Linked DNA regions of Homo sapiens. The protein of the gene in region 3 purifies or fractionates together with the protein of the main gene of each other region. This does not show direct contact. Each region holds a gene or a part of one and is shown on either strand. Other genes may lie near its edges.

Region 1 (7,021 bases), on a different chromosome or scaffold from region 3:
CCAGCTCAGCTTCTCTGCAGCCCAGCGCCTGTCTCCACTCTCCCAGTGCTGGGTGCCTGCTGGACACCAAAACCTTGCTCTGCCAGGGGCCTCAAAGTGCTGATGAGCCTTCTCTTCAGGGCCCCAGGCTCTGAGAGGGTGGAAAAGTATGTAGTAGGGAGGGGAAGGACTGAGTCTAGAACAGAAACCTTCTTTTTTCTCCCCATATCTGCTTTCTGCAGTCCTGCTGTTGCAATGCCCCTGAGTCCAGCTCCAAATTACATACACGATCACTTAGCTCCCATCCCCAGCAATTAAAGATCCTCTCCAATTAAACCAACCCCAGCCATTCTTTGTGGTCCAGGGCAAATCACCTCTCCTGCTCTGACCTCCAATTGCAAGGACAGCAAGAAACAAGGGCTCCGGCCCTGGTTCCAGCAGAGCTCCTGATGCCATCCACATGCCACGGCAGTGGCCGACTCCTGTAGCAGGGCCTAGAATGGACCTTCAGGAGCAAGGCATTCAGGCACATGGGGGCTCTGCATGTGAACTACAGTCCCCGATCACTGAGGTCTCAGTCAGGGTCAGATATGTCAGATCTAACGGGCACTGGGGATCATCTCAGTCCCCACATAATAAAAAGCAAGGAAGAGTCTCAGAGAGGGTATCTAATTCATCCAGGACCCCACCGTCAGCAGGTGGCCTGGACCCCAAAGCCATGCTTCCCTGTCATGCTGCTCTTCTGATATGCCTGGCCTCGGGTCATTAGATATTGACCCTAAATATATCTATTCCCGACTTTCCAGTCTCTCCCACCCCCACATTATCACCCCAATGGCCTCTATGCTGTCAGAACTGGAGAACTGCCCCCAGGGAGGTGGGACCCATCTCTAGGAGGAGGCCTGTCCTCCCACTGGGCTGTTTTACAATCCCAGAGCTGGCAGAACCCAAGCTGCCATTCCACTAGCATAGGCATCCAACAAGCATTTGCCAAATAAAAAAATCAAGGCTGCCCATTTTATAGATCAGAAAACTGAGGTCCAGAGAGTGTATGCTTAGCTAGTCCCCTGCCCATTAGCCCTGGGTCTCTACTACCCTCTGCTGTGTACAGGTATTCAGGCCACTGCTGCCTCCTTCTCCTCCACCCCATGGCCCAGAGAAGTCCTCCCACAGGCCCTGGAACCGATTGCCTCCAGGGAGCCCCCTTCAGTGCCCAGGTCTCTGGATGTGCCCAGGCCCTCCCGGCAGCACTTCCCTTACCAGCATAGTCTGCTTGCCAGATTTCCAAGTCTGGGGCTGGGCCTTGGGGCTTTGGCTCCGCATGAGGGAGGGATAGCCTGGGAAGACAAGAGATTCAGGTCAAAGGGAGCAGCGCTGGTGGTCAGGGGTGCCCGGGCCCAGAGCAGCACAGCTGCCTTCTCCAAAGTGACCACCAAGCATCATCCAGCCCATTACCAAATGCAGCCGTCTGAACACGCGTGCAGCAGCCAGGGTGCCGCAACCGAAAATCCTGGGGAGGCTGGCCAAAGGGAGGAGGCAGCAAAGCAGACAGAAGGAGGAGGAGCCGGCCAGGTGGGCTGGACCAGGCAGCAGGGGAGTGTTGCCCCCACATCCAGCGCAGCATCACACTGCTCTGCAGGGATTTCCACTCACCCACCCCGGAGGTTTACACCACGGGCCCTCCCCTTCCCAGAGCCCAGGAGCGCCACGCATAAGCATGGCCTGCCAGAGTTTCCCGGCAGGAGGCGCTCACTTGGACTCCCCTGTGCTGTTTGGACGATGCTTCCCATTCACGGAGCCCCACTTGTGCCAAGCACTGTGGAAGGGACTTTGTAGATGTCTCCTCACTGAGCCTGGCCCCGTATCTATGAGCTCAGCAGTCTGCCTGAGTTGCACAGCTCATAAGCAGCAAACCAGGTGCTGGGGAGCACCGCAGGCAGGCGGGGGACAGAGTGCCGGAAATCCAAAACCCAAATTCATGTTTTTTTCTCCCTGGCTTTGTGGCCCCTCCCCTGTTTCACTAGCCAGAGACTAGGGCCTAGAGAGGTGCAGGAATCTGTCATTGTGGCCGCCACCCAGGGTTAGGATGGCAAGCCCAAGAGGCCTGGAGCAGGTGCGCTCTCTGAGCTTGGTTGCAAAGATGCTAGTCTAAGACGGGGCCGCCTTGACTCCCTGCGCCTCAGCCCAGACAGACCTGAAAGGAGCTCTGGTTCACAGCACAGTGAAGGCACTCTCAGTGTCAGCCATCAGCCTGCAGGGACGCCTGGGAAGACACAGGCCATGACCTGGATGCTGAGGCCCTCAAGAAATAAGCAGGGTCTGTCCTGGGCCAGATCTCTGTCCAGTGAGAGGCTGCATGCGGTCTGTCTCGGGAAAGCCCCTCTCCTGCCCTGCTCTAAGCGAGGATGAGCAGGTCAGGCTCATGATGAGCACCGCCAGGCTGCCAGTTGGGTTGGCCCTTCCCAGGTTGGCACTGAGCAAGGAGGAGGGGGAGGAGACAGAGCAAAGAACCTGGGTCTCTTCCTGCATCTGAGGGTGGGAGCAGCCTTGGAAAGGGGGGTTCCAGGGATCCTGAGTGGAGATTAAGAGGGGTAATTCAGGCCTCATCTCTCAGTTCCCAGAAAGAAAATCCCATGCCAGCCATGAGAGAGGGGAGAATGGAAACAGGGGTGGGGTCAGGGTGGCCCAAGACACCCGCCTTGTGCAGCAGGCAGAAGTCCAGATAGAGAGTATGCTGGGGTGGCAGGTGGGGCATGCATCCCTCTCCAGGGAGCTCTGGGGAGAAGGGACCGGCACACCCTAGAAGTGGCAGAGAGCCCCCCATGTCCCACCTGCCCCGCTGTGGGAGAGAAAAGGGGAGGGATGGAAAATGGGCAGATACCGGGATTATTTTTAGACAGCCCACTGCGACCCAGTGGTTTGGAAAACTCTGCAGTGGCCTGTCCCAAGGTGGTGAACTGATAAGGGGTTTTCCCAGTGCCTGCTGGGAGAGAGAGAGGCATTAGTGGCACAGCGCTGGTCCCAGAGGGGCCAAAAGGACCCACACCTCATTCTGGGGGCTGCTCTGAATCACACCTGAGAGCGGCCACCTCCCCTGCCAGGTGCTCTGTGGGCCAGGCTTGAGCAGAGAGCAGAAAGGCGCCTGCTAGAAGCCAAACAGGCCAAGGCAAGTCCTGGAGCTCCCCAGGCCCGGATCAGAGCTAAGACATGCCCGGGGCTCCTGCAGGCTGGGACCCTCCACCCATAGTCCTGTCTCCTCCCTCTTGCCGGCAGCTCCAAGAATCCCTGTCCTGGGTATAGTATAGGACCCTGGGCCGGAAGGGACAACTGAGTGATGAGGCCTCAGAGACCACTGTTCAGGGGTCTCTCTGCCCTGCATAGCCCCTTTCCCTCTCCTGAGCCCACCCAATGTGCTGATCTTGACTTCCAGGCCAGATGTTTGGGGTGCCAGAAGAGAGACAGGGTTACTCCCACCACAGCCATTAGAGCTGTCCCTGGGATCTTTCAGGAGATACATGAGGGTCTGGGGCCCATAGCCAGAGTCTGGTTCAAGCCTGCCCCCTCAGGATGCCCCCAACCCCAGGGGACAGGAGGCGTCAATCACTCTGCCTTGTCAGAGTGCTGGGAGCACCACAGGCAGGCGGGGGACAGAGTGCAGGAAAAGAGGATCAGCCTTGGGGGGACTTAGGGTCGTCTGGTCCTGCCTTTCCCAAAGGGGCGCCTGCAGGATTGGATCTGCAGGATGCTGGCAGGTGCCCCATGGCCACAGGACCCTAGAGCCAGCCAACGCTGGGAGTTAAATAAACTCTGCAGTAGGAGAAGCAGCATCCTGAGGATCAGAGAGGTCGAGTGCAGGGGGTATGGCATGTCCCCCGGTCCTGACCACTGAGAGCTGTTGTTGCAGCGTGTAGTTAGAGACTAGAGAGCGGTGAAACAAGCCCTGGGAAACGCTGATGTGGCCCAGCCCCCACCCCTGCCCTCATTTTCAGCAAAGACCATGGCGGTAGCTCCCGGGCTCTCAGGCCAGGCCTCTCTCCTCCACGAGGTGAGGGAGGAACTAGCAGCTCAGCGAAGAGACCCAAGCAGGGCTTGGGAGGTGTGAGGCAGCTGTGGAGGAAAGCAGGGGCCAGGGTGGGCAAGCTCACCTTTCAGGGAGAAGGAGGAGCTGCCTTGGACGACGGGCAGGTCATTGTCAGAGTTCTGAATGCTGGAGGAGTACTCCCAGACCCGGGAGGTGTAGTTACCTGGCAGGACAAAGAAGGGCTGTCAGGCCCCCACAGCTGGGAGTGGGAGAGGAGGCAGGACCAGGACACAGCCAGGTCTATGACTCTCTAGCCGCTGGCCACAACTTAAGCCAGGATGCCACTGTGTGATCCCAGTGACGCCTCACCCCCATCCTTCTGCCACCAAAGCTATCTTTCTAAAATATAAAGCATAGTCTTGTCCCTGCCCTACCTAAAGGCCACTGTCCTCAGAATAAGGGACAAAGTCCCAAGAGCAGCCCAGAGCTCTGTCGTGAGTTGCTCCCCCAACCCCCACCACCCACCCACCATCTCCCACTTCTTGACTTCACCTCTGCCCTCCCTCCACCACTGGACATTCAAACCAGGCTAAGCCTCAGTGTCTGAGACACTCCATCTTCTCTCCTGCCCCAGGCTATGTGCCCAGACCCTGTCCTCTGCCTAGGACACTTCTCCTGCTTGCCACCCTCGGCGATTCATGGGTGGGGTCTTCAAGTGTCAGCTTACATGGCACCTCCCAACGTCTGCATGTGCCTTCAGCTTCATCCCCACATCGTCCTGCAACCCCTACCCTCTGGGTCGCAATTACATGTTCAATTGTCTGTCTCCCGCAGTGAGCTCACGTGAACTGGGAATGTGCCTGTCTGGCCCCTGCATCACACCTGGTGCCTGGCACAGAGCCTGGTTCCTGGAAGGTGCTCATTGTATGGTTGATGGATAGAATGCATGAACCAACGAACGAATGAATACAAACACATCCTAAAACTTGGGGACAAGACAGTTGATAGTTGCCAAGTTGAATAGGCTAACACATGCCTATGTGCAGACATGTTCTATAGTCCAGAGGAGAAGAAGGCAGTGGGAAAGGGGTGGGAGAAGCTGCCAGGGCACTCAGAGGGCACTGGAGTGGGGGGCTCAGAGTCCCCATGGGTGACGCACACTTCTCCAGCACCACACCCCCACCTGCCAGGCTTGAAGCATCAGTGACCTCCTTAGTCAAGCTCACTCCTTAGCAGCCTGTGGGGAGGGCTGGGGGCTGACTTTTGGGCTCAGGGGTCACAGATGGCTGGGGTTGGCCACCTGCCCCTGTGCAAAGCCCTCCCACAGGGATCCCAGGCAGCTTCTGTAGCAAGGCCTCAGTAAGCACGTCCAGCCAGGGTTCCGCGAGGCCAGACACCTTGCCCTCCTGTTCACTCATGCCTTTAGCCTCTCTCTCAACAACTGCTTCCTGACCCCCTCCTACTTTTGAGCTCTGGGCCTGTAGCAGCGAACAGGACAGACACAGCTCTGTCCTCAAGGTGCCCAAGGTCTACTGCATATGTGGAGGAGGGGTGCCGCTGATCACGGCTGTGAATCCAATTCTGGATGTAGAGGCCCAGGCATTGCTCTGGTGCCCCTGACCCTCCAGTCTCCATGAGTCTTGCCCTCACTGAAGAGTCCTCCAGTGCTATGTCTAGGGTGGGGGCTGACCCAGTCCCCTCCCTCCCTGTGCATGGCTGGCATGTGACCAGGAGCCCCCAGGACAGAACCAGGGTCTCCCAGAACCAGGTCTCATTGAATGCATGGCCCTGCCCTTGAGCAAATGGTCCCCTCAGAGCACTGGGCAGAGGGAGACCCTGAACTTAGCAGCTTCCCCTGGGGAAGCCACATCCCCACACCCATTTCATCCCATCTGGGTCTTAAGGTGCTGCTCGCTTGCCTCACCACCTGGAGCTCCAGGGCCAGCCCCATTTCCTGCCGTGCCTTCCTTTCCAGTCACAGCCAAGTTGACAACTAACCACTGTACGACTTTTCACTGCAGAAGTACTCAAATCAGTAGAGATTCTCTTTGGGTCCTCGTGCCCTCATACTTGTGGGGGGGGTGGCGCATTCCCCACACTTAAGCCCAAGGTGGCTGCTCAGACCCAGTTTTCCCCAGATCCTTCCTCAGGGATCAGAAGAGCACACAGACTCAGGGATCTCCAGGGATGCCGAGATTCCTGGCTGTTTTTCCTCCAGCCTAACTAATGGTGTCCCCCACACATGTACACACACACACACACACACACACACACACACACACACACACACACACTTTAAGCTCGGTAGGTAGGACCCCTCCCTACCCATGCCTGGACCCTCCACCCATCCTAGCTTCCCACATTCATCTCACACTGGGGTCCCAGCCCTGTGCCCCTGGACCCACCTCTATGCCCCTCCTGCCTGCACAGCCCCACATGAACTCTGTGCACCCTTGAGCTGAGCCACCACCTACCTTTGGTGCCATAGAGATTGTTGAAATTCTTCTGGGTGGTCTCCTTGGTGAAGCGGCCAGGAGACGAGGGCTGGTATGATGTCCGGACCCCACCTGTGAAGCAGATGAAGGGGGCTGTCATTGCAGAAAATTGTCTCATCAGGACTCCTTGCCCCCAAAAAGTTGCCCAAGTGCCCATCACAGGACCTGGATTCCACCACTGAGAGAAGTCCTTTGGGTCTGACATAAGTCAATCAACTAATTTATCACCCAAATTGGCATGCTTTTGAGAGTAGAAGGACTCTGTTAGTAACCGTGCAGAGAGCATCAGCATAAACTTGGAGAGGCCATGGCAACCACGAGGGCAGAAGCAGTAGGCTCTCAGCCACGTGAGGGTGGGGCCTCCTGGAAGTGGCCTAATGAGCCAGAAACACCTCCCAGGGGCCCACCCAGGCTGCTGCTTCCCGGGAGATCAGAGCCTCACTTCACAAGTGCTTTCCTTCCCGCACACCTGGGCTCTCACAACAGCCTTGTGAGGAAGCAGTGGGGACTGATACCACCACCGATA
Region 2 (7,614 bases), on a different chromosome or scaffold from region 3:
AGTCTATTAAGCACCTACTATATGACTAGCATGGGGCTAGATATCCTCCCCTGTTATCTAACACCCATCACAGCCTGTAGTCACAAGATCAGTTATGCTAGAAGAGGAACTGAAATTCAGGTTTCCTGATGTTCATTCACTGTCACCCCCCACCCCCATCTTTATCTGGCCCAGGGACTCAAGGTCAGGGCTCTGAATCACATGAGCCCCAAGAAGATGTAGGTGCTGTGTGATTTTGAGTGACCTTTATAATGTCTCAGGGCCTCTTCAAAACTGCCAATCTAAGACCTAGTCTGAGATGGCATCCATACCCACAGCATATACAACAAGTTTGTAGGGTGAGCTAGCAGCCTCTAGCCAGACTCCACCTCATAGCGGCCAGCCCTGGAGCCAAGAGAAGCATTCTCAGCCAACATTCAGGAACAAGGTATAAATTCTCCAGGCAAATGAAGTCAAAAGGTCCACGTTCCTTCATTCAACAAGCAAAACAGACTTTCTGCCTCGGGGGCAGAGTGAGGCCAAGCCCACAGATTTATATGGCTTTATTTGTTTCTGATTTTAGAAATTTTCCATCAATGAATGCATTTCCCTTCACCGACAACTCCCCGAGATGCACGTTGGCACCATCACACCCATCTTACAGATGAGGAGAACAAGACTCAGGAAATCCATGGATTGAGACAGGGGAATGATCAGAAGCCAAGCCTCCCTGCTTTCAGTATCACCCGCTTTCCCCTACACAGCACTGTTCCTCACTCTCAAACACTTCCAAGATGGTAGAAGGGAGGGGATCAGGGTTGGACCTATCCCTTTGCTACCAGAAATGTGTGATGTCTTGACCACAGCTAGCAGCCAAGAGGCAATGGAATCGGGTTTTTGTTTTTGGGGTTTTTTTGTGAGATAGGGTCTCACTCTGTCACCCAGGCTGGAATGCAGTGGTGCAATCTCAGCTGTAGCCATGACCTCCCAGGTTCAGGCGTAGCTGGGCCTCTCACCTTAGCCTCTCAAGTAGCTGGGAATACTGGCGCACACCACCACGCCCAGCTAATTTTTGTATTTTTGCAGAGATGGGGCTTCACCATGTTGCCCAGGCTGGTCTTGAACTCCTGAGCTCAAGCAATCTGTCCACCTCAGCCTCCCAAAGTCCTGGGATTACAGGTGTGCACCACCGCACCTGGTCTTGGGTTTTTTTTAAATTGACAAACCATAGTTGTATACATTTATGGGGTACACTGCAATGTGAAATGTATTCTCTTAGTTGTTTTGAAATGCACACAGTTCCTGACTTACAATGGTTTGACATACCATTTTTCAACTTTACAATCGTGCCTAAGTGATAAATATTCAGTAGAAACTGTACTTTTAGTATCCATACTGTTTTTCACTTTCAGTACAGTCTTCAGTAAATCACATGAGACATTCAACACTTTATTATGAAATAGGCTTTGTGTTAGATGATATTGCCCAACTGTAGGCTAATGTAAATGTTCTGGGCATGTTTAAGGTAGGCTAGGCATGTTTAAGGTAGGCTAGGCTATGATTCTCAGGTTAGCTGTATTAAATGCATTTTCAACTTATGATGGGTTTATCAGAACATAACCTCATGGAAAGTTAAGGAGCTTCTGTATATAATACATTACTGACGATAGTCACCCTGGTGTGCAATAAATCTCAAAGCCTATTCCTTAGCAGAACTTGGTGGCCCACACCTGCAGTCCCAGCTACTCAGGAGACTGAGGTGGGAGGACTGCTTGAGCCCAGGAGTTTAAGGCTGCAGTGAGCTACAATCGCCCCACTGCACTCCAGCCTGGGTGACAGAGTGAGACCCCACCTCTACTCTCAACTTCTGTAAGTTCAACTTGGTTAGAATCCGCATATAAATGAGATAATAAAACAGAACTACCATATGAGCCATTATCCCACTTCTGGGTATATATCCAAAGGAACTGAAATCAACATTTCGAAGGGCTATCTGCACTCCCATATTCATTGCAGCATTACTCACAATAGCTAAGATATGGAAATAACCTAAGTGTCCATCAACAGACACTTGATGGATAAAGAAATTATCCATCAACAGACACTTGATGAAGAAATTATCCATCAAATTGAATGCATAAAGAAAATGTGGCATATATACACAACAGAATACTATTCAGCCTTTAAAAGGGGGAACATCTTGTCATTTGCAACAACATAGATTGAATCTGAAAGACATTGGGCTAGCTGCAATAAGCCAGGAACGAGGCTTTTTCAGGTGAAGGGATTACAGAACTTCCCTTTCCCAGGGATCTGCAGCACGGTGTGAATGAGAAGTGAAGGAAGAAGCGGTGTCAATGAGAAGTGAAGGAGGAAGCTTGGAGGGTACGGGGACTGTTGTCTCAGTGGCTCATAACCAAGGGCAGCGGGGTCACAGGCCTGGGTATTTGTCACCAGATGGGCAAATCTGGATCCTCTGGCCTGGAAAAGCTCTCAAACCCTCCCAACTCTCAGGAAGACCTCAGGGCATTCGAGCAGGGGAAGAGATGAGGCAGCAGGCCTTATCATGGGGGACATAAGGAGTGGGGGTCAGGAGTAAGGTGCAGGGTTAACAGGACTGAATCTCTGGGGGCAATGCCTTAGTTTTAAGGCTGTCTGCATTTTCACTCCGGCGCTTGGAGGGAGGGCAGGAGAGTGCAGACGTGAGATTAATCTCTCCAAAAAGGGCCTGGAGCAGAACAAGTCTTTAGAGGCCACCCTCATTGTACAGACCAGAATCCCATAATTAGTTACTTTGGAAGGCTCTAGTGCAGAGAACCAATTCTAGAGAACGGAGTGGCCACCCCCATATCTCAGCCAGACCCGCACACCCGTAGCTGGGCCAGGAGGCTGCAAACAGACTCTTAAAAGAGGGTGCACTCACCTTTTTCAGGTGGGCTTGCGCAGGGGCCGCGAGAAGCAAGCCCAGGGCGATCAGGAGGGGAGCCTGCATCAGGGACTGCATCGGGAAGGGTGGGTCAGGGCGGAGTTAACTGCAAGGTCTGTGGCGGCAGAGGTGCCTTTAAATGCCTTCCAGTATTGGTTACGCAAAGAAGCTGAGTCCAGTCACTGGCAGGTTCGCCCTGCCCCGTCCCGGCCAGAGACTTCCCGGCCGAGAATTGGACCGATTCCTCCCGGCTCCGCCCCCTCGCTCTTTTCATTGGAGCCTGTCTCTCTAGCGTAGGTGTCAAGGCCTTCCCTCTCTGGGGCGTAGGCGGAGTTGGAAGAGAAAGGGGCGGAACTGAGCGCGGCGGGGCTGAAGGCGGCTGGAACGGAAGGGAGCTTAGCACGAGGTTGGGGCGGGATCACGAGGGCGGGGCGGAGCTGCGCGCGCGGGAGGGGCGGGGGCGTGGCGCGAGGAGGGGCCGAGCGGAGTCGGGGGCGGGGCGGAGCAGAGCTCCTGGGAAGGGCGGGGCCGGGCAGGGGATGGGGCGGAGCTGTGGTTTGTGAACTCGTGCCGGGGCCGTCACCTTTGGAAGGACCTTTGGGAAACCGCGGATTCAGTGTTTTCATCCCCAAGTCCTTCCGGACAAAAATGTCAGACTCTCTGCCATGTTACGCTTCCCCATATGTGTGTCTTTTTTTTTTTTTTTTTTGCTTTGAGACGGACTCTCGCTCTGTCGCCCGAGCTGGAGTGCAGTGGCGCGATCTCGGCTCACTGCAACCTCTGCCTCCCAGGTTCAAGCGATTCTTCCGCCTCAGCCTCTCGACTAGCTGGGACTACAGGCACGCGCCACACGCCCAGCTAATTTTTGTGTTTTTAGTAGAAACGGGGTTTCACCGTGTTGTCCAGGACGGTCTTGATCTCTTGACTTCACGAATCCGTATCTTTTTAATAATTATAACCGTTATAAAAACTAACATTTAGTAACTGCTTGAAAGCATGCTAAGGACGCACAAGGGAATGCTTTTTTTTTTTCTTCCCCAATTTTAGCACTGAGGAAACTGATACACAGTGAGGTTAGCTCTGCCAAGGTCGCACAGCTAGGAAGGAATAGAGCAAGACTTCTTTTTAGACACCCCATCAGCCAAGATTTTGTCAGGTTAATATACTAGTTGGAGATTTGCTTTTAGAAAAAACAGGGATGTTGTTACCAATACCGCCAATTTACCACAGGATTGTAAACTACACAAGGGGTGGCATCATGATGCAGGCACTCATTTATACCCAGTGCCTGATGCATAATAGACAATCTGTTGAGTACATGAATGCATGTGTAGAATTTAAAACTCACCTGATCATCTTTTTTAAAGTAAACTTTTTATTTTGGTTTACAGAAAAGTTGCAAAAATACTACAAAGTTCTGTTCGTTTCCTCTATTGTTGATAAGACACCCGTGGCCTGGCCGGGGGTTCAGACTGCAGACCCAGAGCTTGTGCTTGTGCATAACTGGGGGGCACTGCCAGCGACAAGGAGGTGGCAAAAGAATAAAAAATTAAAAAATTTTTTTTAAATCTGAGGGCATGACATTGGTACACTATTATTAACTAAGCTCCATACTTTACATAATGATCCTCCCATTCTGATCAACTCTTCCCTTTCACCTAGCCCAACTGAGGTAGGAGAATAGAGTCTGCAGGCAGGGAACCTAAGGCCATTTCACGCTGACTTCCTAGAACTAAATCGAAAGGAAAACCCTAACTTTCCACACCTAAGTAACAAGAGGACCAGAGGCTACTCTCTTTACAACCCCCCACCTTTTCTGTGCAGCAGATGGGAAATTGAAAGTACATTTCGATTTCTATGCTACATTTCAGTTTATATGTTAAAATTGCATAGAAGTGCAACTTTGTAACTTCACTTCAGCCTGATTGGTTGCTTTCCACAACCAATCAGATGTTTGCACAGGAGCATGACCTTTGTAACTTCACTTCGGCCTCTGATTAACCAGTCAGACTGATTGCGGGCCACCACTTCATTTACATGAGGTGAGCACCAAGTGGCCAATGGGAAACCTCTAGGGGGTATTTGGACCCAAGAAGATTCTGTATCTGGGCCCTTGAGCTGCTGCTTGGCCCGCTCCCACACTGTTGAGTGTACTTTCATTTTTAATAAACCCTTGCTTTTGTTCTTTCATTGCTCCATTTTTCCCTTGCTTTTCTGTGTGTTTTCTCCAATTCTTTGTTCAAAAACGCCAAGAACCTAGACAACTTTCAGTCAAAACCCTCTACTGGTAACATATTTTGGCAAGCCAGCCAGGAGAGAAGGTAGGCCCAAAGCTTGGGATTTATTTTTCTCCATTTCCCTTTTAATGCAGGGGAATTTTTCTCTCCCTCTCTCTTTTCCTTTCCAACTCGGAACCCAACTCGGTGGACAGCGCCTAAGCACAGAGGAAATTGTAAGTTTCTGGCCAGGGCCACTCTCTGGTGAGACTGAAAGGCTTCCGTGTCGAAGCACTTGACCGCCACTGCCTGGTCACTGAGAAGTCTTTTTCCTTGTTTTCATTTTTCTGAGTCCTATTCCTTTTCTTTTTTTCTCTCTTTTTTCTGAGTTCTATTCCTTTTTGTTTTTTGTTGTTTTTTGTTTGTTTGTTTTTTGCTTTTTCAGTCTTTCACTGGTCGTTTCCTAGTAGCTCCTTGGTAATTGAGGGAAACTGGCCGGGGCCACTCTCCAGTGTTCTCTGAAGGCCAAAGAGTGAACAGGGACGGCTGCCCTGCCCAGAAGGGTGAAAGACTCTTTTCTGTCCTTTCTGATTATAGATCCCTACCTGTGTCTGGGTTGGCAGCAGCAGCAGCTCATCCAGGGCAAACTCACACGTTTCAGGTGACTTAAACCTTATGCTAAATTCTTCCCTTCCCTTCCCCCACTTGACTGGCTAAGGACAGAAAACCCACCTAGCTATGCAAAAAGGTTATATGAGTCAGAGGGTCCAGGCATGTCGTAGGTGGTCTGTGTGATGCATGGGGAGTGGGGGGAATTCATGAAAGGTAATCTATTATTGCCTAAATTGAGAGAGTTAAAGGGTTGCTTTGCCGGCTGCGGTGGCTCACGCCTGTAATCCCAGCACTTTGGGAGGCCGAGGCAGGCGGATCACGAGGTCAGGAGATTGAGACCATCCTGGCTAACACGGTGAAACGCCATCTCTACTAAATATACAAAAAATTAGCCAGGCATGGTGGTCGGCGCCTGTAGTCCCAGCTACTCGGAGGCTGAGGCAGGAGAATGGCATGAACCTGGGAGGCAGAGCTTGCAGCGAGCCGAGATCATGCCACTGCACTCCAGCCTGGGCAACAGAGCAAGACCCTGTCTCAAAAAAAAAAAAAAGTTGCTTTAAGTGGCATGGGAAAACCTTAAGGAAAGTTCACAGTAGGTCTTCAGTGGTGGAGGGAACCATTCCAAAGCAATGCCTGCACCTATCTAAGGTCAGAGACATCTAACAGGCTAAGTCAGGGCCCTAATGGGGAGATGCTCCCAGGGACCCCAGTCTGGGCCCAGAATTTTTCCAGGAGGATGCCTCAGGTAAAATTTGGGTCACCTGGTCAGTCCTCTTCTCTTTTCCAGACCACTGTGGGCAACTCTCTACCTATTCCACCTGATTCCCCGCTCGGCTACGTCCTCCACCATTGCGATCAATTTGACCCTGACAATCTAAAGAGAAAACATATAATTTTTTTCTGCAGTACTGTCTGGCTCCATTATGAGCTGCCCAGCCTGGAAAAAATGGGTAGTCAATGGTAGCCTTAATTATGACATCATCCTGCAATTAGACCTATTTTGCAAGAGACAGAGCACATGGTCAGAAATCTTGTACATGCAGACTTCCATGACGCTTTACCAAAACCTAACAATCTGTGAAACTCCCAGAACCCACCCCACAAAGGAAAGTTCTAAGGGAGAACTACATATTATAGATGACCCCCTCTTACAAGGGCCACCTGTCTCTCAGAGTGAACAGTGACCACCCCCATATAGCCCCTTGCAAGTGCTCCTGAGGCTCAACCCCAGGAGCAAACACCAGAGACCCTACTAAGTCCCCCTCACATTCGGAGGGGAACCCTGTATTCAGCTCTTCTTCCAGCCCTGCTACACCTTAGGGAAGTAGCAGGAGTTGAGGGGCCAGTCCTAGTGCAGGCCCCCTTCTCTATAACTAATATTCAACAATGTAAGGAAAAGCTAGGAAGCTGTTCTGAGAATCCTAGGAAATTTGCAGATGAGTTCCACACTTTGACCTTAGCCTTTGATCTCTCATGGAGAGATGGTCAATTCATTCTAGCAACCTGTTGGCACTCCCTCAGGAAAGGAACAAATCTTTGAGGCTGCCAGCAGGGAAGTGGATGAATTATCCACCTGAAACCCTCAGGGCAATTACCGAGGCCCAGACACAGTTCCCACTACTGATCCTAATTGAAACTATAACGCCCCCATGGGAATGAACCACCTGGCTAAATTTCTTGAGGCTGTCCTTGGAGGAATGAGAAAGGGATTAACTAAGGCAGTAAATTATGATAAAGTAAGGGAGGTTACATAAGGCAAGGAGGAAAATCCAGCCATGTTTTATGGTAGGCTGGAGGAAGCCTTTAAATATATACTAATCTGGACCCTTCTTCTCCCGAAGGCAAAATATTAATGGCACAGCATTTCATTAGCCAATCTGC
Region 3 (7,021 bases):
CAGCCTGCAACCTCCACCCTCCACCTCCTGGGCTCAAGAGATCCTCACATGTCAGCCTCCCAGGTAGCTGGGACTTCAGGTATGTACCACCATGTCCAGCTAATGTTTGTATCTTTTGTAGAGAAAGGGTTTCGGTATTTTGCCCAGGCTGGTCTCAAACTCCTAGGCTCAAGAAATCACCCACCTCAACCTCCCGAAGTGCTGAGATTGCAGGCATGAGCCACTGCACCTGACCTTGCCTGCTTTTTTTCTTTTTTCTTTTTTTTTTTTTGACACTGAGTCTCGCTCTATCACCCAGGCTGGAGTACAGTGGCGCGATCTCGGCTCACTGCAACCTCTGCCTCGTGGGTTCAAGCGATTCTCCTGCCTCAGCCTCCCAAGGAGCTGGGACTACAGGCGCCCACCACCATGCCTGGCTAATTTTTGTATTTTTAGTAGAGTCAGGGTTTTACCATGTTGGCCAGGCTGGTCTCAAATTCCTGACCTCGAATGATCCACCCACCTCGGCCTCCCAAAGTTCTGGGATTGCAGGCATGAGCCACCGCGCCTGGCCTTGCCTGCTTCTTGAGCTGCTTCTTGCCACCTTCAAGGCAAGACTTGGTTCTTGCCACTCTTACCCCCTACCCTGCTACCAAAACCTACATCTTGTTTTTTTTAGGCATTTCAAGGTAGATTACACTTTTAAATCAAGTGGTTAAGGTAGGATCTCCTGAAGTAGATATCTGGGCAAAGACTTGAAGGAGAGAAGGGAGTTAGCATGTTATCTGGGGACAGTTGTCCCAAGCAGAGCACAGCCAAGGCAGAAGCCCTAAGACAAGAGCATGACTGGCATGTTCTCTGAGCAGTACTAGGGCCCTGTGGTGGAACGAAGTAAGGGAGAGAGAGTAGTAGGAAATGAGAGCTGAGGTGTAATGGGGAGCAGATCATGCAGGACCTGTATGCCATTATGAGGGTTTCAACTTGTACTCTGAATGAAACGAGGAATTATTGGAAGGTCTTTGGGCAGAGAAGTAATGTGAGCTGACTCACATTTTAAGAATCAGTAGGCCAACTGCAGTGACTCACACCTATAATCCCAGCACTTTGGGAGGCTGAGGCAAGAGGATCACTTGAGCCCAGGAGGTTGAGGCTGCAGTGAGCCAAGATTGTGCCACTGCACTCCAGCCTGGTCAACAGAGTGAGACCTAATCTCAAAAAAAAAAAAAAAAAAAAAAAAAAGAAGAAGATGTGGAGTGCTTCAAATCCCACCAGAAAATCTTATTTCTATAGTGCCCTGTTCTTGTGAAGCTAGCATATGTAACTCTGCTACATAATCCAAGGTCTCCTATAAATGAATTTTTAATACTCATTTTTTTAAACTTTGTTAACTAAAAGGTTGAGATTTAAGCTCCTAACTAGTTTGTTTCTTGCGCAGCCCACAGAACTTAATTGCCCAATCTCAGTCTGGTACTGGTAAAACAGCTGCCTTCGTGCTGGCCATGCTTAGCCAAGTAGAACCTGCAAACAAATACCCCCAGGTAAGGATTTATGAATTTAGGTTTTCTACTAATGCATAGATAGAAGGGGATTTCCATTTGATGGATTAAAAGACAAGCTATGGGCTGGGTGCAGTGGCTCATGCCTGTAATCCCAGCACTTTGGGAGGCCGAGGTGGGCGGATCACCTGAGGTCAGGAGTTCTAGACCAGCCTGGCCAACATGGTGAAACCCTGTCTCTACTAAAAATAAAAAATTAGCTGGGCCTGGTGGCATGTGCCTGTAATCCCAGCTACTTGGGAAACTGAGGCAAGAGAATCATTTGAACCCGGGAGGCGGAGGTTGCAGTGAGCTGAGATCGCACCATTGCACTCCAGCCTGGGCAAAAAGAACGAAACTCTGTCTCAAAAAAATAAAATAAAAGCCAAGCTATGCATTACTTTTTACACAAACTGAAACTCCTTAAATTGAGCACAAATAATACGGGATATCTTCCAATGGCAATAAAAATCCTGTTTCCTTTTTCCATGGTGTGCCAGTTCTGGGATGCTTCTTACAGGCTTGGCTCCTTTACTTGCAGGAAAACCTGTTTCATCAGCAACTGCCATCCATTAGAAAGTTCTGAGAGCTTTCTGAGTAAACGAAAAGAAAGCTAATGCCAATTGGAACTTTAGATCCTTGCTCATGGGTGGGTTTTTGTATTGCAGTGGCCAGTATCTGTTTTCAAGTGTCTTTACCCAGCCAGAGTTCTGACCCCTAAGAATTCTAGCTTATGACTCTGTAGCTTAAAGAATCAAATGGTGTACATTTTAATGTACATATTCTTTCCTTCAGCTTCAGCTGGAGGAGTGGCTAAGTACTAATGGTAATTCCCCTTTGCAAAAGAGCTATTGTCTTGAATTTGCACTCTGCATTCTTTTCCTGCCAGTGTCTATGTCTCTCCCCAACGTATGAGCTCGCCCTCCAAACAGGAAAAGTGATTGAACAAATGGGCAAATTTTACCCTGAACTGAAGCTAGCTTATGCTGTTCGAGGCAATAAATGTGAGTATGTGAATTTGGTCCTAAATCATCAACCTAATTCTTTTTATTTTGAAATATTTCAAAACCCACCCAATAGTTGAAATAATACAATAAACACATGTATGTTCTCCAGCTAGATTCAAAAACTTAACATTTTGCCATATTTGCTTTACATAAATGTATACATTTTTGTCAAACCATTTGAAAGTAAACTGCAGACATGCACCTCATGAGGACATTCTTTGCCATACCTATGGATACCCTTTTATCACAACCAGGAAAATTAACAGATTTCCTAGAATAACTAATACCAGTCCATTTTTATTCCTCCCCAGCTGTTCCCAAAGTCTTCCTTTATAGCTGTTTGGTTTTTCGACCAAGATCAAGTTAGCGTTTATACGTTGCGTTTGGTTGTTGTACTTGTTTCTTTCAATCTAGAATTGTACCCCTACCTTTTTCTCTCCCTATTATATTTAACATTTTGCACAGACCAGACTAGTTGCTTTTCAAATATTCTACATTCTGGCCGGGCGCGGTGGCTCACGCCTGTAATCCCAGCCCTTTGGGAGGCCGAGGCGGGCAGCAGATCACGAGATCAGGAGATTGAGACCATCCTAGCTATCATGGTGAAACCCCGTATCTAATAAAAATACAAAAAAATTAGCCAGGCGTGGTGGCGGGCACCTGTAGTCCCAGCTACTTGCGAGGCTGAGGCAGGAGAATGGTGTGAACCTGGGAGGCAGAGCTAGCAGTGAGCTGAAATAGCGCCACTGCACTCGAGCCTGGGCGACAGAGCGAGACTCCGTCTCAAAACAAGCAAACAAACAAAAAACAAACAAACAAAAATTCTACATTCTAGATTTGTTTATTTTTATTTATTTATTTTAGAAACAGAGTCTTGCTCTGTCACTCAGGCTGGAGTACAGTGGCATGATCTTGGCTCACTGCAACCTCTGCCCTCCGGGTTCAAGTGATTCTCCTGCCTCAGACTCCCAAGTAGCTGGGATTACAGGTGCCTGCCACCATGGCTGGCTAATTTTGTATTTTTAGTACAGATGGGGTTTCACCACGTTGGCCAGGCTGGTCTCAAACTCTTGACCTCAGGTTATCCATCTGCCTCGGCCTCCCAAAGTGCTGAGATTATAGGTGTGAGCCACTGTGCCCAGACTTCTTTCTTTTTTTTTTGAGAGAGAGTCTCGCCCTGTCGCCCAGGCTGGAGAGCAGTGGCACAGTCTTGGCTCACTGCAAGCTCTGCCTCTGGGGTTCACACCATTCTCCTGCCTCAGCCTCCTGAGTAGCTGGGACTACAGGCGCCCACCACTACGCCCAGCTAATTTTTTGTATTTTTAGTAGAGACGGGGTTTCACTGTGTTAGCCAGGATGGTCTCTATCTGCTGACCTCGTGATCCTCCCGCCTTGGCCTCCCAAAGTGCTGGGATTACAGGCGTGAGCCACTGCGCCTGGCCGCCTTCTTTTTTTTATTTTGAGACAGTTTCGCTAGGTCACCTAGGCTGGAGTTCTGACTCCAGGCACGAGCCACCGTGCCTGGCCACACCCAGCTAATTTTCTAAAAATTTTTTTTGTAGGCCAAACATGGTGGCTCATGCCTGTAATCCCAGCACTTTAGCAGGCCGAGGTGGGTGGATCACGAGGTCAGGAGATAGAGACCATCCTGGCCAACATGGTGAAACCCCATCTCTACTAAACATAGAAAAATTAGCCAGGTGTGGTGGCATGTGCCTGTCGTCCCAGCTACTCAGGAGGCTGAGGCAGGAGAATCACTTGAACCCGGGAGGTGGAGGTTGCAGTGAGCCAAGATCGTGCCACTGCACTCCAGCCTGGGCGATAGAGCAAGACTCTGTCTCAAAACAAAACAAACAAAAAAAAACAAACAAATTTTTTTTTTTTTTGTAAAGACAGTGTCTTGCTATGTTGCCCAAGCTGGTCTAGAACTCCAAGTCTCAAGCAATCCTCCTGCCTCGTCCCCTCAAAGTGATGGGATTACAGGTGTGAGCCACTAGGCCAGGACTGAATTTGTTTAATTGCCTAATTTATTTATCTTCATTAGCAGAATAAAAACCCAGAATGTTTATGGCTATTGACTCTGGGGCTTATTCTGTTAATTATTTTTTGTTACTAATTTTTTCTACACTAGTTTGTTTTACAGTTAATATTATTTAAGTAATTTTAAAAGTGTTGTTGGCCGGACATGATGGCTCATACCTGTAATCTCAGCACTTTGGGAGCCTAAGGTGGGTGGATCATTGTAAGGTTAGGAGTTCGAGACCAGCCTGACCAACATGATGAAACCCAGTCTCTACTAAAAATACAAAAATATTAGCTGGGCATGGTGGTGCACACCTGTAATCCCAGCTACTCAGGAGGCTGAGGCAGGAGAATTGCTTGAACCCGGGAGGGGGAGGTTGCAGTGAGCCGAGATTGCACCACTGTACTCCAGCCTGGGCGACAGAATGAGATTCTGTCTCAAAAAAAAAAAAGTGTTAGAGGTTTGGTTGAGTTTTATGGATCTCTGAAACAAATGTGACCTTATGAAAATCAAGTCTGCATACAGTGTCCTAATGCCAACTTGAGGCCAGTTCTGAAAAGTAAATAATACAGTGAAACTTATTGGGAGATAATCATTTAAAATTTTGCAATTTGTATTCGAATTAGAAGGGTAGAGAATTCTGAATTTTTTTTTTTTTTTTTTTTTTGAGACAGAGTCTCAGTCTGTCTCCGGGCTGGAGTGCAGTGGCGCGATCTCGGCTCACTGCAACCTCCGCCTCCTGGGTTCAAGCGATTCTCCTGCCCCAGCCTCCCAAATAGCTGAGATTACATGAGCCCACCACCACACCCAGCTAATTTTTGTATTTTTAGTAGAGATGGGGTTTCGCCATGTTGGCCAGGCTGGTCTCGAACTCCTGACCTCAGGTGATCCGCCTGCCTCAGCCTTCCAAAATGCTGGGATTACAGGCATGAGCCACCGTGCCCGGCCCTTTTAGTTATTTTTAAATGTACAATATATTGTTGACTGTAGTCACCACATTGTGCTATCAAATGCTAGATCTTACTTATTTTAATTGTATTTTTGTACCCATTACCTTTTCAGCATTTTTGTCTGTTTTTATGTCCATTAAATGCTATAGTGATATCCTAACCTTTCCTTAATATATTAATGCAAACAGCAAAACATTTGCATTAAAATATATAATAGGTTTAGAATTTCTCAGAGAGAAGAGCTGGCTTTGCCTTTGAAATACCCATGGAGGCCGGGCACGGTGGCTCATGCCTGTAATCCCAGCACTTTGGGAGGCCGAGGCAGGTGGATCACCAGGTCAGGAGTTCAAGACCAGCCTGGCCAAGAGAGTGAAACCCACCTCTACTAAAAATACAAAAAAAAAAAAAATTAGCCAGGTGCAGTGGCAGGTGCCTGTAATCCTAGATACTTGGGAGGCTGAGGCAGGAGAATCGCTTGAACCTGGGCGGCAGAGGTTGCAGTGAGTCGAGATCATGCCATTGCACTCCAGCCTGGGCAACAGAGTGAGACTCTGTCTCAAAAAAAAAAAAAAAAAAAAAGAAAGAAAGAAATACCCACACATGGAAAACATCTTGGGGTCTCCACAGTGGAAAGAGGCCAGAAGATCAGTGAGCAGATTGTCATTGGCACCCCTGGGACTGTGCTGGACTGGTGCTCCAAGCTCAAGTTCATTGATCCCAAGAAAATCAAGGTGTTTGTTCTGGATGAGGCTGATGTCATGATAGCCACTCAGGGCCACCAAGATCAGAGCATCCGCATCCAGAGGTAGGGATCTCGAGGGTGGGGGACTCCTCAGATTCCCCATCTGCAGTGTCTTCTCCCTTCACTTCAGATGCCTCCTCTGGCTTCTGCCTGGGTCTTGGCTCTCGTACTCTCAGCAGCATTTGTTTGACGGGCCACTTCCGTGTCAGCGCTGGCCACAGTCCCTCCCAGCCTGGGTTGAGAAAGGAGACCTAGGGACTCTCCCCCAACCCCTGTCCCCATCCCAGGCCTGCTGCTCCTCCTCCCCAAGACGCTCCTCTCCCATCAGCCTTCCTGGGCATCTAGACCCTCCCAGCTGGGAAGGCTGTGCTTCTGTCGCTTCCCGGGGCCACCTGGGGCCACCTACCAGGGCCTTCCCTTGCAGGATGCTGCCCAGGAACTGCCAGATGCTGCTTTTCTCCGCCACCTTTGAAGACTCTGTGTGGAAGTTTGCCCAGAAAGTGGTCCCAGACCCAAACGTTATCAAACTGAAGCGTGAGGAAGAGACCCTGGACACCATCAAGCAGTACTATGTCCTGTGCAGCAGCAGAGACGAGAAGTTCCAGGCCTTGTGTAACCTCTACGGGGCCATCACCATTGCTCAAGCCATGATCTTCTGCCATGTGAGTAGCAGTGGCAGTGGCAGGCCTGGCCCTTCCCTCTCAGCCAGCTCCCCACAGGGCTCAGGAGGACTGGATGCCCCTGGGTGCCATGGGAAGAAACGAAGTGGTTTGTTCTCCTAAGGT

What was found. Proteins that work in one complex are often made in the same cells at the same time.
Region 1: the proteins of DDX19B (region 3) and TRIM29 purify together in Homo sapiens (affinity purification with mass spectrometry; 2 studies listed by BioGRID and IntAct, with this or other methods). This does not show direct contact.
Region 2: the proteins of DDX19B (region 3) and GM2A purify together in Homo sapiens (affinity purification with mass spectrometry; 2 studies listed by BioGRID and IntAct, with this or other methods). This does not show direct contact.

The regions. Positions count from the first base shown.
Region 1 is NC_000011.10:120,114,099-120,121,119, forward strand, and holds part of TRIM29 (tripartite motif-containing protein 29), read right to left. Parts: intron 6,568-7,021; coding exon 6,475-6,567; intron 4,224-6,474; coding exon 4,125-4,223; intron 2,963-4,124; coding exon of another isoform or gene 2,861-2,962; intron 1,317-2,860; coding exon 1,240-1,316; intron 1-1,239.
Region 2 is NC_000005.10:151,248,586-151,256,199, reverse strand, and holds the start of GM2A (ganglioside GM2 activator isoform 1 precursor), read right to left. Parts: upstream 3,016-7,614; 5' UTR 2,984-3,015; coding exon 2,903-2,983; intron 1-2,902.
Region 3 is NC_000016.10:70,323,171-70,330,191, forward strand, and holds part of DDX19B (ATP-dependent RNA helicase DDX19B), read left to right. Parts: intron 1-1,414; coding exon 1,415-1,517; intron 1,518-2,403; coding exon 2,404-2,518; intron 2,519-6,121; coding exon 6,122-6,299; intron 6,300-6,660; coding exon 6,661-6,898; intron 6,899-7,021. UniProt on the Homo sapiens protein: ATP-dependent RNA helicase involved in mRNA export from the nucleus.